Homo sapiens: one gene and its partner. The protein of the gene in region 2 purifies or fractionates together with the protein of the main gene of each other region. This does not show direct contact. Each region holds a gene or a part of one and is shown on either strand. Other genes may lie near its edges. The genes, in order: TMEM245 and BTN3A2.

Region 1 (4,406 bases), on a different chromosome or scaffold from region 2:
CAATTGAAGCAGTAGCCTTAGGGAGGAAACCTGTACTTCTTCCCCTAAGCTAGCTTTGGAATACATCACTTTCTTTATACCAGACCTTGCTCTTGTTAATTGGAATCTGCAAGTGGTGAGCGACTAAACCTGCGTTTTGGTTATAAAACTCCAAAGGCCATCTGAAATACTGAGACCTAAAACTTACAATCGAGATGGATAGGGAATTACTTTTTCCTTTACTTCCTTTACTAAATCCCTTTGTCTCCAAATCTATCAAGCAATAGTTTCTTTATCTGCAAACTGTGGATTATGTTACCTGTCTTGTCTGCTTTAGAAGGGAAACAAAAATTATGTAGAAATTAATAGGAATACTATTGAAACAGGAAAGGGACAACTTGCAAGGTTTGAAGCAATCACATGTTGAGTACTCAGTCAAGGCTTTCTTTTTTTTTTTAAATCAAAATGTTGATTGGGATATTTTATGGGTAGCAGGCTTGGATCCCAGCACTTTTCCAATAGGGGAACAGAAGCACCTTGTACCGCCCCAGAGTTTCCCTTCCCCCACACAATAACCCTAAAGCAAAAGCTATTATTATTATCATCGCCATGTGACAGAGGAAAACTTGAGATTGGGGGCTTAACTGACATTACATCAAGTCTCAAAAAGAAACAGTGGCAGTTTGAGACTTTGATCTACGACTCTTTTAAGAGTTTAGATTGCGTCCACAGCGAAACCTGCACAAACAGTTGTCAACAGCGGCTGCAAATTACAGGCTTATGAGGAACGTTTGAAAAATGCCAAGAGTTCTTTCCTCAGGCCAAATACTATGGTAGATAAAAGTATAGCCTTTGGAGCCAGAATCCCTGAGTTTGAATCTTGCCTGTGCCACTTGGTAGCTGTGTGACTCTGGCTGCGTACTTAACGGCTCTGTCTCAGTTTTTCTGTTGGTAAAATGAGGATAATAACACCTTCTTTGTAGGGTTGTTCTAAGGATTAAATGAGTTAATAGGAGTGAGCCACTTAGAATAGGGCCTGTTATATGGTAATCTCTATTTAAAATCCTGTCAGATACACCAAAGAAAACACTTTAAAAATATCTGTTAAATAAATCAGTAAAACAGAATCGGGGCATTGGTTCTTTAAAAGTACTCCCCCACGGTATTCTAGTATGCAGCTTGGGTTTTAATATCTGAATGTGGCGCCTTTTGGGATCTCGCCTCGCGAGAAATTGACATTAACGAATGAGTGAAAGGAGCTTCCCCCCCCCCCCCCCTCCAGGAAGATATAGACCCTGCAAACTTGTTAGCAGGACCTTGCGGACACCAAGGAGGCGGAGGCGTTTTCCCCATTTCCCCTTCGGGAGTTGTAGTTTCCTGCAAGCGCTTGGTGGGTCTGTAAACCAGCGGGGAACTACAACTCCCACAATCTCGCGCGCCTCCCGCCCTGCCTCCCGCCCGCGTTTCTAGCCCGACTCCCATTACCGCCCCTCGGGGGCGGCTGTGGCGGAGGAACGATGGCCGACGGCGGCGGCCCTAAGGACGCGCCAAGCCTGCGGAGCTCTCCCGGGCCGGCGCCGCGGGTCCCGCGCGCGGTCGGGCCGAGTGGCGGTGGCGGGGAGACCCCGCGGACCGCGGCGCTGGCGCTGCGCTTCGACAAGCCCATTAAGCAGGCCTTCTACAACACCGGGGCCGTGCTGTTCGTGTGCCTGTGCTGCGGCGCCGCGGTGCTGGTCTACTTCATCCTGGAGGCCTTCCTGCGGCCGCTGCTCTGGGCCGTGCTATGCGGCACTTTTCTGCACCCCTTCAAGAGCTCGCTGACGCGCCTGGGCCGCCACTGGCTGCAGCGCCTGCACCGCGCGCACACGCCCATCGTCCTGGCCGCGCTGCTCCTGCCGCTCTGCTTCGTCGACTACGGCGTCGAGGCCCTGGGCGAGCAGGCGCTGCGCCGCCGCCGCCTGCTCCTGCTGCTCGGCGCCGGCGGCCCGCTCCTGTACGGCCTCTACTGCCTCGGCAGCTACTTGGGCGTGCAGGTGCTGCTGGTGCACGCTGCCACGCTCATCTGCCGCGGGCTGGACTACTTCAGCAGCCTGTGGGTGAGTGAGCGGCAGTCCGCCCCCGTCCCCCGCCCGTGGTCCCGGCGCTCTGGGGTGCAATCCTGCAGCTGTTCCTCCCGGTGCAGGGGCGACGAGGGGCCACACCTGTGCTGCAGTGACCGTCCGTCTCCGCTTTCCTTCTCACACCTCAGGAATTTGGCGGACATTCTTCCAAAAAGGGGGCGGGCGTGATTTGAAACAGCCTCCCTGCTTTTCGCCTTGTTTCAATCCTAATAGGCCCTCTTAGGGGGACAGTGCCCTGGATTGAGAATCGTTATTTCGCTTTGCAGAGAGAGGCCTCAGAGCATGGCAGTGGGGCTTGGTTTTACTTCTGGTTGGAGAGGGCGGGGGTGCTTCGGCCACCCTCAGTTCTGCGCATCTGAATGTCAGAGCTGGAAGGGACCTTAGAGATTCTAGGCCAACTTGCCATCCTGCAGATAGGAAAGGTGACCTCTTACCAGGCTAGGGCTACTTAGGGACAAAGAGGGGTTTGGGTGTCTTAGATTTCTTACAAGTCCTAAAACAAAGCTTGCTTCACTGGCTGGTGCTGCCTCTCAGTTCAGGTGATTCCTGTATAATTTGTGCAAGGCACTGGGTGCTGAGCTGCCTGTGCTTCTTCCTCTCCACGCTTTACTTTTAGGTAACTGCTTTTGTTGTGCAGGGACTGGTGTACCACAGCACACCTCCTCCCGCCTGGAGTAAAGCAGCTGACCGCGTGAAGGGGAGAGACGTAGATTTGTGATGCTTGGATTAACCTGAGCTTACTCTTACAAAACCAGGGAGCTTTAGAATTGGAAAGATTTCAAAGGTAATCTAGTGACACAATTCCTAACTCAGACTATATTGTGGACTAGTTAATTATCCACATATTTAACTGGAGACTGTTAAAAACAAGTGGAGATTTAGTGCGTAAGAATGCCAATTGATTCATAAACAGTACCATTTACAAATTGATTCACTTCTTTTGTCAGTGAAATAAAGTTCAGTGTACCTTGACGTCATTAAGTTGGAAAATATTAATTCCCCTTATCTGTCTAGCGGTGTTTTGGCTTGCCTGAGGTTATTGGCAGAGTGATGAATGACCCAAAACACCCTTCTTCTCTTGTTCCCTCAATACCACCTCTTGGTTCATGTTTAAAGTTGATCGAGCATATGTTAGGTGTTGGGCTTTGTGAGAGGTTTAAAAAAGGACTAAGATACAGGTCCCGTCTTCACGGTACATATAATCCTATATGAACATATTCTAATGGAGATGACAGACATACAGATAAATGTTCATGACTCATCCGTTGTGGGCCACAGGCCCAGAGAATGTGATTGGTCCAAAGTCACACAGCTCATGAGCAAATCTGTGGTTCACTTTTATGGAGGCCCAGTTCAGCGCTCTTTATCCTTTATCTTGCAGTTTCACAATTCAGTTAAGTGGATCGAATGCTTCTTAGCTAGAAGGCAGAACACTATGTTCTAAGAAAAATAAGCTTGGTTATTTTCCTGAAGAAATTCAGTTTTGTCAAAGACACATTTATAGATTCTGCTAACATTTTTGACTGTTGATACTGCTCAAGGAGCATATCCATCAAACTATAGGAAAGTAGAAAAGAAAGGCCTGCCACATGTAAATAGTATATTTTCATGCTAGAGTAAGAAGTTGAATACCTAAGTAATTTGGCATGATTATGAGGCATTTCTACCAGTCTCTCTCAGATACTCAGTGGAAAGAGTTGAGCACTTGTAAAGAAACATCCACAGCTCGGCGTATACCTTTGAGTATCTTTTTACTGAAGATAAACCCTCATCTTTGTATTTCATTTGTGGGTTGTGGATGAGTGGAAGAGAAGTAGGGGCCAACACTGATTAGACCTGGGAGTGGGAGAAAGAAGGTCAAACTAATTAATGATTTTTTAAAAGCTTGAAATTGGCCGGGCGCGGTGGCTCACGCCTGTAATCCCAGCACTTTGGGAGGTCGAGGCGGGTGGATCACCTGAGGTTAGGAGTTCAAGACCAGCCTGGCCAACATGGTGAAACCCCGTCTCTACCAAAAATACAAAAAAAAAAAAATTAGCTGGGTGTGGTGGTGGGCACCTGTAATCCCAACTATTTGGGAGGCTGAGGCAGAAGAATCACTTGAACCCGGGAGGCAGAGGTTGGAGTGAGCCAAGATTGCACCACTGCACTCCATTCTGGGTGACAAGCGTGAAATTCCGTCTCAAAAAAAAACCAAAAAAACCTTGAAATTCAGCTGTTTGGCTCAAGTGTTGGGAGCAAGGAAAAAGAGAGAGGGTTAAAAAAAAACAAACTCAACATAAAAGTATGAGTTAAGTATTTGTGAGT
Region 2 (3,812 bases):
GTGGAGACAGCTCCCCACTGTTGGGAACCATGGGGGCACTGCACTTTTCCTTGTTGCTTTCCCTTAACCCTTCTTTCTGGAAACCTTGTCCAACTACCCAGTTTGAGCTCACCATCTATTTCTTGCTAGGTTTCTGCCAAGCATGTTCATTATTCCTTCAGTCTTCACCTCAACCCCCATGAAAAACAGATTGCAATCATCATCTAAAAATGTGGAGGCCAAAGCTTGGAAGCATTAAATCCTTTGAGGAGATACAGGCAGTAGGTGGCATGAGAAGCCTGGGAAGGACAAAGTTCTTTGGGCAGGCATCACCTCCTCTCCTTGGCATTTCCATCCTCACTCTCCCTGCAGTATTACTCAGTGTGTGTCTCCTTCCCTTCACCTCCACCCTTTATGCGTCTTCCTACCCACGAAGGAAGTCAAGGGAACTTTTCTGCTCCAAATCACAAGAGTTGGAGAAGAAAAAAGGAAAAAGGAATATAGTCCCTCAGGTTGTTGGTCCAGGGAACATGCAGTGATTTACTCACCAGGCTTGAAGAGGGCCATTTTTCCATTCTGAAAGGAAGGAGACACAGATAAGAAAAAGGTCAGTATTTTTGTACTTTTCCCACTCCATTCTCCTCTCACTACATGTTTTCTCTCCTTTTCTTTAGAGTCTCTTCCAGGGTCCAGCTTCCCTCCTCTACAGCTCTGATGGATCAGAGGTGGCACCTTCTCAAAAATGTCAGGCTTGGCTCCCTGTGTCATGGGGGGTGCAGGATGCATGGCCAGGCTTTACAAGGGGGTGTGCAGGATCAGGAGTTTCTCAGAGGCTCCAGAAAAGCGGAGGTGAACCCCCACCACACAGAAATTGAGTCTTTAGATTAGATCTAATTAATCCAGCTGAGAACATCCACGGGTCACAGTGGAGAAAAAGTTGAAATATTCAGGGCATGTGACCCAGCAAACTTACAGAGCATCAGGCTGACTTATTGGTATCGGACGAAGACTCCTCTCCACCTACAATGAAAGAAAGGTAGAGGTGTCACCAGAACTCTGCCTTTTCTGTGTTGGCCCCTTCCCCTTCTTTTTGCATCCATCTAGTCTTTTTTTTTTTTTTTTTTTTTTTTTTTTTTTTTTTTTTTACCATCCCACCCTTCCCCATGGTCTCCATCTTCAGGTACAATTCTTTCTTCACCTCTTCTTAATATCAAGTCTGGGAACATCGGTTGAACGCTAGTGGCAGGGCAGGCACTGTGAGAGTTCCTTCCCAATGGGGTCCAGCTCATCTGTTTTGAATGTGTACCTGGGCATAGGTGTCACCATGTCTATATGTGTATGCCTAGGAGTACAAGATTCATCCTTCTCAATCTGTATCATTTCGTACCTTGCTCTAAAAAGAATTTGGGAAATTTAATGAGCAATTTCAGGGACTAGTTTTTGAAAGCAGTTATGATCTATCTGTACCAACTGAGCCACTGTAGCTACTCCTCTTTATTAGACACACTTTTCTCCCTCCCTCTCTCTTTTCTGATTTTCTTATTTCTTAAATCTTCCATTCTTGTTTTCCTTTCAACAGCCTCTAGATTATGGGAAACAACAAGTAAGTTTCCTGCCATAGAAAATGCACCTCATCCTTCTCTTCCCTCTTCCTTTTGAAGTGTACCCCTGGATATTCCTCAGTGCTTTTTAGAGCTTAAGGGTCTGTAGCCCCTAGTACAAAGAGATTGAAGACCTCTTTTTTTTTTTTTTTTTTTTCTAGAGAGAAAAAGCACTGGGTGGTTTCTCCAAAGAGCCACACTTGTTTTCTTTTTCTGGGTAAAGGGATCCAAGACCACTTTTCAACCCTGGGCTATGACTTATGGGCTGGAAAATAATGAAGCAGAGAGAGAGTAACAGATTTGAATTCAGAGAAAATGTCAAAGCCACTCACGAGTCAAGTACTGGATTTTTTTCCTCTCTGCAATGGAATGAACAGGGAAGAGTCATCAAGGTGCTCAAAGCGAGGATAGGAAGACATGTCTGGATCTCTGGGGGAATGGTAACTTACTGAGTTCCTCCTGGAGGCTCTCTGGAAAATAACCAAAAAAAAAAAAAAAAAAAAAAAAAGATGAACTGTTATGGGTGAGGTTGGTGTTTCGGGAAATAAACCTTAAACATGATGCAGTGCCAGGGTAGGGGAGAGAGGTGAGGTTTTCAGGCTGGGGCATGCAAGCCAAGAGCTTAGATTCTCTGCTTGCGTTGGATACCTCTTAGGCTTATTTCCCGCTCTGTTGCAGCATATCCCATTTCTTTCATCTCTTGCTCACTTTCTATCTCACTGGACAGAGCAGTTATTTCCTTCTGTTGTCTCCACAAGAAGTAACTGGCTCCGGCGAGAAGCAGCAGCAAGATAGGCAGGGTCCCTGCCAGGGCTGCGATCCAGGGCTGGGCGCTCCTGAAGAAGGGGTCTGCGAAGGGGAGAGCTGTAGGTCATGGGCGCTGGTGCGCTCAGCCTCCCCAGCCTGCAGCACCCCAAGCTTTAGCTGCTCAGCTCAGGTCGGGGGTGGGGAATCTATCTCATGAGGTTAAATAAGGATTCTCTCCCTAAAGTCTCAGAGGACTATAGATAAGACTTTGGTAAACCCTCACTACAAGCTACTACTATTACTTATCTTGAGATGTCTGCCTCTCACATGGAAAGTAACTTGAGCAAAGTCATACACATTTTTTCTAAATATTTTTTCAATAGGTAACACATTTACATCGTTCAAAACTACATACACATAAAGTCACGCAACTCTCTCATTCACCCTGTCCTCCCTCCCTCCATGTATTAACTTCTTAGTCCACTTAATATGATGCTTAGGAACATAACCTGTGGAGTCAGAGGGTATGGGTTTCAATGCTGGCTCCCCCATGTGACTAGCAGTGTGATGTTGGACTACTTACATAACCTCTCTGTTTGTAGTGGCCTAATCTACTAATGTAAAATGAGGGTAATGATAATACCTATTTCCTGAGGTTAGAAGAATTGAATTAATACTTATAAAGTGCCTGATGTACAGTAAGTGTTACAAAATTGCTTGTTGAAGTTTAAAAATGTAAACTAACCCAATTGAGAACTAAAAAAAAGTAAATTAAAATATATTCTTATTTTTCCTCTTGTTTAAACTAAAAATAGCATTCTATACACGTCCCTCTGCATCTTGCTTTTTCTGTGTAAAGTGTATCTTGGAGATCTTTCCATATTAGTATAGAGAGAATTGCTTCTTTTTCCTTTTACAAACTGTGCAGTATTCCCTTGTATGGAAGTTCCCTGGCAGTGAACATCTGCACAGTTTCTAACCTTGTGCAATAGTAATCAGTGCTATAAGAAACCTTTTACAGGCCGGTTGCAGTGGCTCACGCCTGTAATCCCAGCACTTTAGGAGGCTGAGGCGGGTGGATCACTTGAGGTCAGGAGTTTGAGACCAGCCTGGCCAACATGGTAAAACCTTGTCTCTACTAAAAATACAAAAATTAGCTGGGTGTGGTGGCACATGCTTGTAATCTCAGCTACTTGGGAGATTGAGGCAGGAGGATCACTTGAACCTGGGAGGCAGAGGCTGCAGCGAGCTGAGATTGCACCACTGCACTCAAGCCTGGGCAATAGAGTGAGACTTTGTCTAAAAAAAAAAAAGACACACACACAACGAAAAACAGAAACCTTTCACATGGATCATCTCATACAAATGCAAGCTTATCTATCAGATAAATTCCTAGAAGTGGAAGTTTGGATCGATAAGTGTGTAGTTTGGATAGATATTGCTATAGAGCCCCCAACAGAGGTTGACCTAATGCACATCAAAAAT

Evidence for each region.
Region 1: the proteins of BTN3A2 (region 2) and TMEM245 purify together in Homo sapiens (affinity purification with mass spectrometry; one large-scale study listed by BioGRID and IntAct). This does not show direct contact.

What each region holds. Positions count from the first base shown.
Region 1 is NC_000009.12:109,117,004-109,121,409, reverse strand, and holds the start of TMEM245 (transmembrane protein 245), read left to right. Parts: upstream 1-1,462; 5' UTR 1,463-1,496; coding exon 1,497-2,075; intron 2,076-4,406.
Region 2 is NC_000006.12:26,371,514-26,375,325, reverse strand, and holds part of BTN3A2 (butyrophilin subfamily 3 member A2 isoform a precursor), read right to left. Parts: intron 2,445-3,812; coding exon of another isoform or gene 2,430-2,444; coding exon 2,229-2,429; intron 2,051-2,228; coding exon 2,030-2,050; intron 1,940-2,029; coding exon 1,913-1,939; intron 1,000-1,912; coding exon 959-999; 3' UTR 953-958; intron 556-952; 3' UTR 528-555; intron 1-527. UniProt on the Homo sapiens protein: Plays a role in T-cell responses in the adaptive immune response. Inhibits the release of IFNG from activated T-cells.